2 separate regions of the Homo sapiens genome follow, and region 1 is linked to region 2. The links come from fine-mapping of genetic effects on gene expression. A gene starts in region 2. The other region holds a variant in brackets. All regions are shown on one strand. Distances are between the middles of the regions. Region 1 overlaps PHEX (phosphate regulating endopeptidase X-linked). Region 2 holds the start of PHEX (phosphate regulating endopeptidase X-linked).

What was found. PIP is the estimated chance that this variant, and not a neighbour inherited with it, causes the effect. A credible set is the group of variants that fine-mapping cannot tell apart.
Region 1: its variant is the best candidate, but not a certain one, in a credible set for the expression of PHEX in esophagus muscle (GTEx, PIP 0.85).

What each region holds. Positions count from the first base shown.
Region 1 is chrX:22,095,662-22,099,661 of GRCh38, reverse strand. PHEX (phosphate regulating endopeptidase X-linked) reads right to left here. Exons shown (of 22, transcript NM_000444.6): 8 at 2,624-2,707; 9 at 511-656. Among named protein-coding and RNA genes, the nearest start is that of PHEX, 65 kb to the right of the region's middle. The variant C/T (reference allele first, on the strand shown) is at 1,624.
Region 2 is chrX:22,030,136-22,034,135 of GRCh38, reverse strand. It overlaps PHEX (phosphate regulating endopeptidase X-linked), which reads right to left and starts at 1,811. Exons shown (of 22, transcript NM_000444.6): 1 at 1,013-1,811. The coding sequence starts at 1,130.

The DNA of each region.
Region 1 (4,000 bases), 66 kb before region 2:
AATAAGAAAAACCTGGCAGTTCCTAAAGTTGTTTTATCCGTGCAATTTTTCTACCACTCTCAAGGTGGTCTTGTGTCTTCTCAATACAGTTACTTTAGTTTATTGCCAGAAAGTGACTTAATGGTTAAAAAGGAACCAGGAAAAAAAAAAAAAAGCAGCAAAAGATTGAGAATGAACTGGGGAAAAAAAAAGATGTTCACACAGACATTTTAGAAAATAACATCATTATATGACTAGCTCCCCAAGCTCATAAACAATTTAGGATCTCAAAGAGAACAGCATGGAGAAAGACCAGAAATAAAGGGCAAAAACATTTGTTATCATTGCAGCAAGTAAATTACACCAGACAGTGCTTTTGGCCAGTTCATCACAAAGGACACCGGGATTTTCCCTATGACTCTTTTGATGTAACATTCTTTAAAAACAGTTTTCAAAGGATGTGAGAAGGGAAGCCCTTATAATTTAAAGAAAACACAAAAGTCACAGTAAAATTCATGTGAAAGTTCTTACTTCTTTCTCTCAGACCCTAATATCCTAAACAAATCTTTAAAGTACTGCGGGACGCGGACCACCACATTCTCGGAGGGGCTGATGTCTTTCAGATGGGGGTAGAGTCTGGTGTCAATGACCTTCTTGATGTAGCCCAGCCAGTCGAACTGAGGGGAGAGAGAACAAAACAGAATGAGAGAATCTCGGTTAGGTAGCAAGTAAGAAAGGCAGATAGAGTAGATTGAGCATCATTCATTTCTTTTGATTTCACACCTAATAATTCAAGATGCAACTACTCAAGTCTAGAAAATAAACTCCTGATCATTGCCATCCAGACCTATTGTCTTTTTTTTTTTTTTTTTTTTTTTTTTTTTTTTGAGACATTCTCGCTCTATCACCCAGGCTGGAGTGCAGTGGCATGATCTTGGCTCACTGTTACCTCTGCCTCCTGGGTTCAAGCAATTTTCCTGCCTCAGCCTCCTGAGTAGCTGGGATTACAGGCACCTGCCACCACACTTGGCTAATTTTTTTTTTTTTTTTGTATTTTTAGTAGAGGTGGAATTTCACCATGTTGGCCAGGCTGGTCTCGAACTCCTGACTTCAAGTGATCCACCCACCTTGGCCTCCCAATGTGCTGGGATTACAGGTATGAGCCACCATGCTCGGCCTGACCTATTGTCTTAATCACAAATGGAGCATGTGTTCTGTACCATCTACATCTGGACGACACCCACACACACACTAACACAGTAATATGCACCCTCACTCCCTTGGCCCCCTCCAGTACTCTTCCTCCTTCCTGAACTCTCCCCTCTGTCTTTCTCTCCCCATTCTGCTCTCTCCCTGTCCAGTACTCTTCCTCTATTCTATACTCTTTCTTCCTCCCATACTCTTCCCTCCTTCTCTCCTGCATTTCTCTTCCTCCTTCTAAATTCTTCCTCTATACGGTACATTTTCTCTCTCCCTCCCTCCCTTTCTCTGTCCTGTACTCTCCCTCACTCTCACATACACACAGAAACAGATGCCCCAGTACATAATTTGTCTCTGTGACACAGTTTTTAAAAAAAAAAAAAAAAAAACACAAGAGGAAATAAGCAGCAACAGAAAGTAAATGCAGCCAGGCATGGTAGCTCA[C/T]ACCTGTAATCCCAGCACTTTGGGAGGCCGAGGCAGGTGGATCATTTGAGGTCAGGAGTTTGAGACCAGCCTGGCCAATCCCATCTCTATCAAAAATACAAAAATTAGCTAGGTGTGGTGGCCGGCACCTGTAATCCCAGCTACTCGAGAGGCTAAGGCAGGAGAATCACTTGAACCCGGGAGGCAGAGGTTGCAATGAGCCAAGATCACACCACTGCACCCCAGCCTGGATGACACAGCAAGACTGTGTCTCAAAAAAAAACAAATAAAAACACAGAAAGTAACATGCCTCCATTCTTCAGAGCATCCCTATCCTACCTAAAACACCATATGGTGTTTTTTAGATTGGCTACTCTAAAAGTCTTTTCCCAACCTTTTCTTCCTTGCCTGTGTCCACTGTTGAAACGGAAAACCAGTTACTCACTTGCCCAACCTCCCCTGTGGTTAGGAGTGGCCATGTGACCCAATCCTACTCAATAAGAAATAAAGGGAAGACATCTGGAGATGTTCTGGAAAGGCTTGTTTGTTTTTCCTAGTAAAAGAGTTAGACACATCACTGGCCCTTTCACCTTCTTCCTGCTCTGACAGCAGATGTGATATATGGAGCTGTGATGGATACCTTGGAACCATGAGTCATCAAACATGAAGTCAAAAAGCCAACACACTAAACACAGTAGGATGGAAAGATAGAAAGAACTTGGGCCTTTGACAACACTGTTAAACAGCTGAGCCAATGCCAACAATTACCTATGTCTAGACTTTTGTCATGTGAGAATATAGGCTTTAAGTTTCTAAGCCACTGTTGGAAAGATGTTTTGTTCCCTGTAACAGAAGGCATCCCAATACACAGACAAGGGATATTTTATGTGATTGTTGACAAAGATGATGATAACCAAGACTGAGAGCAGGTTTTACAAGACACAAATTTACACAGAGATGAAATCCAATCCCTTCTAAAATGATGAGTTGAGAGAAAGTTTTCTGGATAGTTTTCACCAACCTGGGGAATCATAGCACTCAGTTCAGAAATGTTCATTTTGTTGTACATGGCCTCGCTGGTTCGGTTTTCATGTGGAATCATTATCTGTTGAAAAGAGATTTTTGTTATTTTTTTTCAAGTGAACCATTTCTTACTGTATGATTACTTCCTACATGTGCCAAAACATCTGCATAGTATTATAAAGTTTTTCAAGGCTTTGGTGTGGTCCCCAACTCGGGGAAGAGAAAAAAAGACATCACTTTAGGCAGGATTAAGAAAATAAACTTTCATATCCTCCTCTGTGTGAAATATTGTCCCCAGTACAAAAAGAACTACCCCAAATCTCCCTCCCAATCTATAATGTGGATGGGCAAAATCTATTGCTGGCTCAATTTTGACAATCAAACTTAAGTTGGACATTGAGGTAAACATCCCATTGTCACCTGTGGTCTCCAGATAATGATTTCAATATTTCATGAACCACAGACCATCCCTTCACCTCTAGGGGCAAATTTTCACTGATGAACACAAGACTATCTGGATGCCACTGTTCCCCGTGATCATTTTGTCAACAGCTCATTCCCTCATTTCCCCTCTTGTCTCTTTGGCCTTGAGATTTCCCTAGCCCCATTGCTGGGGGTATGGATTTAGTCACCGCCTGGACACACATTTCAAAACTTGCCTCTCTCTAGCCCTGGCTCTATACTCTTTCAATTCCTAATACTCATGCTCTTGGCCATTTGGCCAACACCAAATCTGAGCTTCTAGCCTCCACTATGTTTAACCTAAGAACAGCAGCAATGATTATCTTCCTCAAGGATCATCTTAATCACTTCCATTGACCAGCAGTAGCTCACATATCCACCCCTCAATCACGTCATGACTTTGCCTTCGGGCCTTCCATCATCTAATTCCCTTGCATTAAACTTGCCACCTTCCCACTGCACACATGACTCTCCGACTCTTGCATCTCCTATCCACCATCACCACCTCCATGGTTTGAACTATGACTCAGGACTGCCCAAGACTCACTGCATCTAGCAAGCCTTTCCAATTACACTCCACTTGGTTCCAATCACAAGGGCTACTCCATCAATAAAACCTCTCCTTGTGCACACATCTCTCTAGCTGGATTGGTTAAGTATATGCTTCCCTGGTTGTAATTACAAGGACGTATTTGGCTGGGCTGGACTGTCTTGTCTTCCCAGCTTCAGAAGTTTCCATAGGACTATGTATCCCACTAATTTTAAAAGTACCTAGTGATGTGTAGTGTAAGATATGGAAGTGAGCATTACTAGCAGTGATTTTTCAAGGTAAAAATTACAGAGGGCTGACTGGCAGACGTCTGGCCCCTCTTTGCTAAATGCTTCAGTGTCCTTAGCTTCCCTTTCTTCACCC
Region 2 (4,000 bases):
TTTCGCTTTATCAGAAAGCAATAAACCCATCTAATTTCCTAAATCTTCAGCCACAGAAAGCGTGGAAAGATGGTTTGCTCATTTTAGCAGTTTTCAACCACACAACCCTAACTCTTTTAAAGTTTAATTACTGGTTTACCCCTGCCAAAATAAACATGGCCTCCTGCAGGTTTGCTACATTTCAAACTGCACCTAGAATCTCCTCGTTCCTATGTAACGTTCAAGTTAATGAAGTATTATGGGTTGTATGAGAAAAATTAAAACGGTAATAGTCAAGGGTTCAGAAAGCCTAGAATTTTAGAAAATCCCTCACTCCTTTCCAAGATATTTGATTCTTTTTCATGGGAATACACTTCTATCATCCTATATACTCTCTGGGTACATCATTCTCACCAACAGTCATTAAAATAACTGAATCACAATATCTTTCAAATCTTGGGGGAAAACCTCTGTTTTCCTTCATATTAATTTGTAAATCAAATTGCATCTCACCAGAGTCACTGGATAAGAAAGGAATTGAAGAATATCATTAAAAGCACACTTTAAAGGACTGATTTGTGTTTTGTGAATTAAATTTCATGATTCGTTCAAGCAAACATTAATAAAAGTCAAATGGAAAGACACTCCAGCATGGTTTTCATCACAATGTAAAGTCTTTCCTCAAAATATAAATGAAACTATGTGACTATGAATTCACAAACACTCATTTTGCTAAATGTACCACATAAAAAATTTTCCACCCAATGCAACAGAATCAGCCAGCCACTCGAAGCCACTTACACCCACTTTGCCTTCTGGACTATACATTTGGTACTTGGGTGTATTTATTTATTTAGGCTCCTTAAAAAAGCCTTCTTTATCATTTGCATATTTGATAGAAACTAAAGATACACCACCTATGAACGCAGGCAAACAGCCCTATACCTGTGTTATGACAAGTTTTGCTACAATAAAGCACAAGGAAACTTCTCGACACACACCCAGTTCCCCCGGCCTCCTGCACTCCACTTACCTAGAAAGAGGATCGTGCCCAGAACTAGGGTGCCACCGACAAACACGACCAGGGCAATTCGAGTGCCTCTGTTGGCCTTCTTTCCAGTCTCCACGCTGCTCCCTGTTTCTGCTTCCATCAGAAGGGCCGTAGAGAGCACACGAGAAGAAAGTCACTTTTCGTGGTTTGGTGGCTGGTCTCAAGAGCGAGGCGTTGACATCCAAGGCTTTCTTGCTCTTCTACTAATGGACAGCTTAAGAAACTGCCGTCAGGAAATCTCCCCTCGCCACCCTTTCTCAAATAATTCTTCACAAATGAAAATTATAAAAACCAAAATATTGGTTGCCTTGGCTTTCCCCCTGACTAGACAAAACAAACAGTGTTGCTTTATCTTGGTGCTCTCCCTCAGCAAAGTCCCTGTTTGGCAGGCTCTTCTCTCAAGCGTTCCGAGTATATATGTTTTACTATGTTGCTGAACAGATGTTTTAGCTATTTAAATGTATAGTCACTTGGGGAGGAAAAAAACAATTGTTTTATCAAAACTGGATTCTCGTGAAACTCCCCCAAATCATGATAAGTTAGGTGGCCAGGATTCACCGGACCCACTTCAAGATCTCAATTAATCATGTAATTCTGTTGCAAGAATCATTCTGCTTGCCTGAATTGTCTTCATCAAAGATATTCTTTCAGTGTGTGAGTCCCTTTTTAAAGCCTTCTAAGAGTTCCTAGGATATCCTGGAGCATTTTATTTCAGGAACTTTGTGTATGATAGCATGTGCCAAAAATCAGTCATAGTCCAGTGCAGTGCAAAGTAGCAATTAAGACAACCTACAGAGGCTGATGGTTTGAACTGGAACTTTTTCTTAAAGGAAGGAGAAAAAGCACTTCCTCTTTGTGGTACTAAGAAGTGTACAAAAAAAAAAACCCACAAAAAAACACAAGTGCGTGAATTAAGTTTATTAGCAACTACAAAAGATATGATGAAAAATTTTTTCCTTGTGTGTTTTTGATGAAAAGTGCACCATGTGTTTTGTCTGCCACTCCTACTGAGGCAGCCATTCATTAGGATGTTTTTGTGTTTACATAAACTGTCCACTTCAGCAGATTCCCCAGGATGAATTCAAAGGCAATTGGTTTCAGGCCGGGCGTAGTGGCCCACGCCTGTAATCCCAGCACTTTGGGAGGCTGAGGCAGGGGGCTCGCTTGAGGCCAGGAGTTCGAGACCAGCCTGGCCAACAAGGCGAAACCTTGTTTGTACTAAAAACACAAAAATTAGCCGGGCATGTTGGTGAGCACCTGTATTCCCAGCTACTCAGGAGGCAGAGGTGGGAGAATCGCTTGAGCCTGGGAGGTGGAGGTTGCAGTGAGCCAGATCGCGCCACTGCACTCTAACCTGGGTGACAGAGAGAGAGACCCTGTCTCAAAAATAAACAAACAAAAAACAAAGGCAGTTGACTTCACTGGAAAGACTGATGAATGACTGGGTCTTTGATATTTTTGATTATGATAATGATTTAAACGATAACAATGTGCTTTCTTCATGGGGAAGGGCAACTGATATTCCAATGCTACCACTGAAATGATATAGATTTTATTATCCAAAGATATAGATATCGTTAACTCACAACACAATTACTACCTACCTGCTTTTGTTTTGCTGGAGGTCATAGGGCAGTGGGAGTGGGGGTGGAGAATTCAACTATATCTAGAAACCAGTAGAGCAATTATCTCAATGCAAAACTTGTGCGCATGGCTTTAGAGGTGACACAGGAGCTCAGCAGGTGCTGATGAGCTCAGTATAACATGGCCACACATTCATGGTCCTGTCTGGCTTGTCTTGGTCAGGGCTTAAGCCCTTAGCATGGGATTCTCTCAAGTTTTGGGGCTTATTCCATAATATACCTTACTTTCTGCTCATTTCATGTTGCGCCAAAGTCAGGGGGTCACAAGCCTTTGTCCAAGTTATGACATCATGGTGTGTTGTAGTTATCCTGTGCTCATTGGCTGTTGACATTATTTTGTTGCTGTTATTCCATAACACACCCTAGCAGGACTTTGGCCCCTAGTATGGGATTCTCCCAAGAGTTTTTGGACCTCACTCTAGAACACATCTTAGACCATGAGTTCCACAAAGTCAGGAACCATGTTCAATGTTGCAGCTCCAACATCGACATTTCCTGGCCCTTCACAGTGAAAAGGAGAGCAATAAAAATCATACAAGTTAGCCCTAGCCACTTACTCTTAACAACCAGCTTCAGCTGGGCGCAGTGGCTCACGCCTGTAATCCCAGTACTTTGGGAGGCCAAGGCGGGTGGATCACGAGGTCAGGAGTTCGAGACCAGCCTGGCCAACATGGTGAAACCCTGTCTCTACTAAAAATACAAAAAATAGCCGGGCGTGGTAGCAGGCGCCTGTAATCCCAGCTACTCAGGAGACTGAGGCAGGAGAGTTGCTTGAACTCAGGAGGCGGGTTGCAGCGAGCTGAGATCATGCCACTGAACTCTAGTCTGGGCGGCAGAGCAAGACTGTCTGGAAAAAAACAAATACAAAACAAAACAAAACAAAAAACCAACTTCGGGGCCAGAAGTGGTGGCTCACACCTGTAATCCCAACACTTTGGGAGGCTGAGGTGGGCAGATCACTCTAAGTCAGGAGTTCGAGATCTGCCTGGCCAATGTGGCGAAACCCTGTCTCTACTAAAAATACAAAAATTAGCCAGGTGTGGTGGCACGTGACTGTAATCCCAGCTACTCGGGGAAGCTGAGGCACAAAAATCGCTTGGACCTGGGAAGTGGAGGCTGCAGTGAGCTGAGATTGAGCCACTGCACTCCAGCCTGGGTGACAGAATGAAACTGTGTCTCAAAAAAACCAAAAGGCCAAGGTGGGTGGATCACCTGAGGTCAGGAGTTCGAGATCAGCCTGGCCAACATGGCGAAACCCCGACTCTACTGAAAGTACAAAAATTAGCCGGAGGTGGTGGTGGATGCCTGTAATGCCAGCTACTCGGGA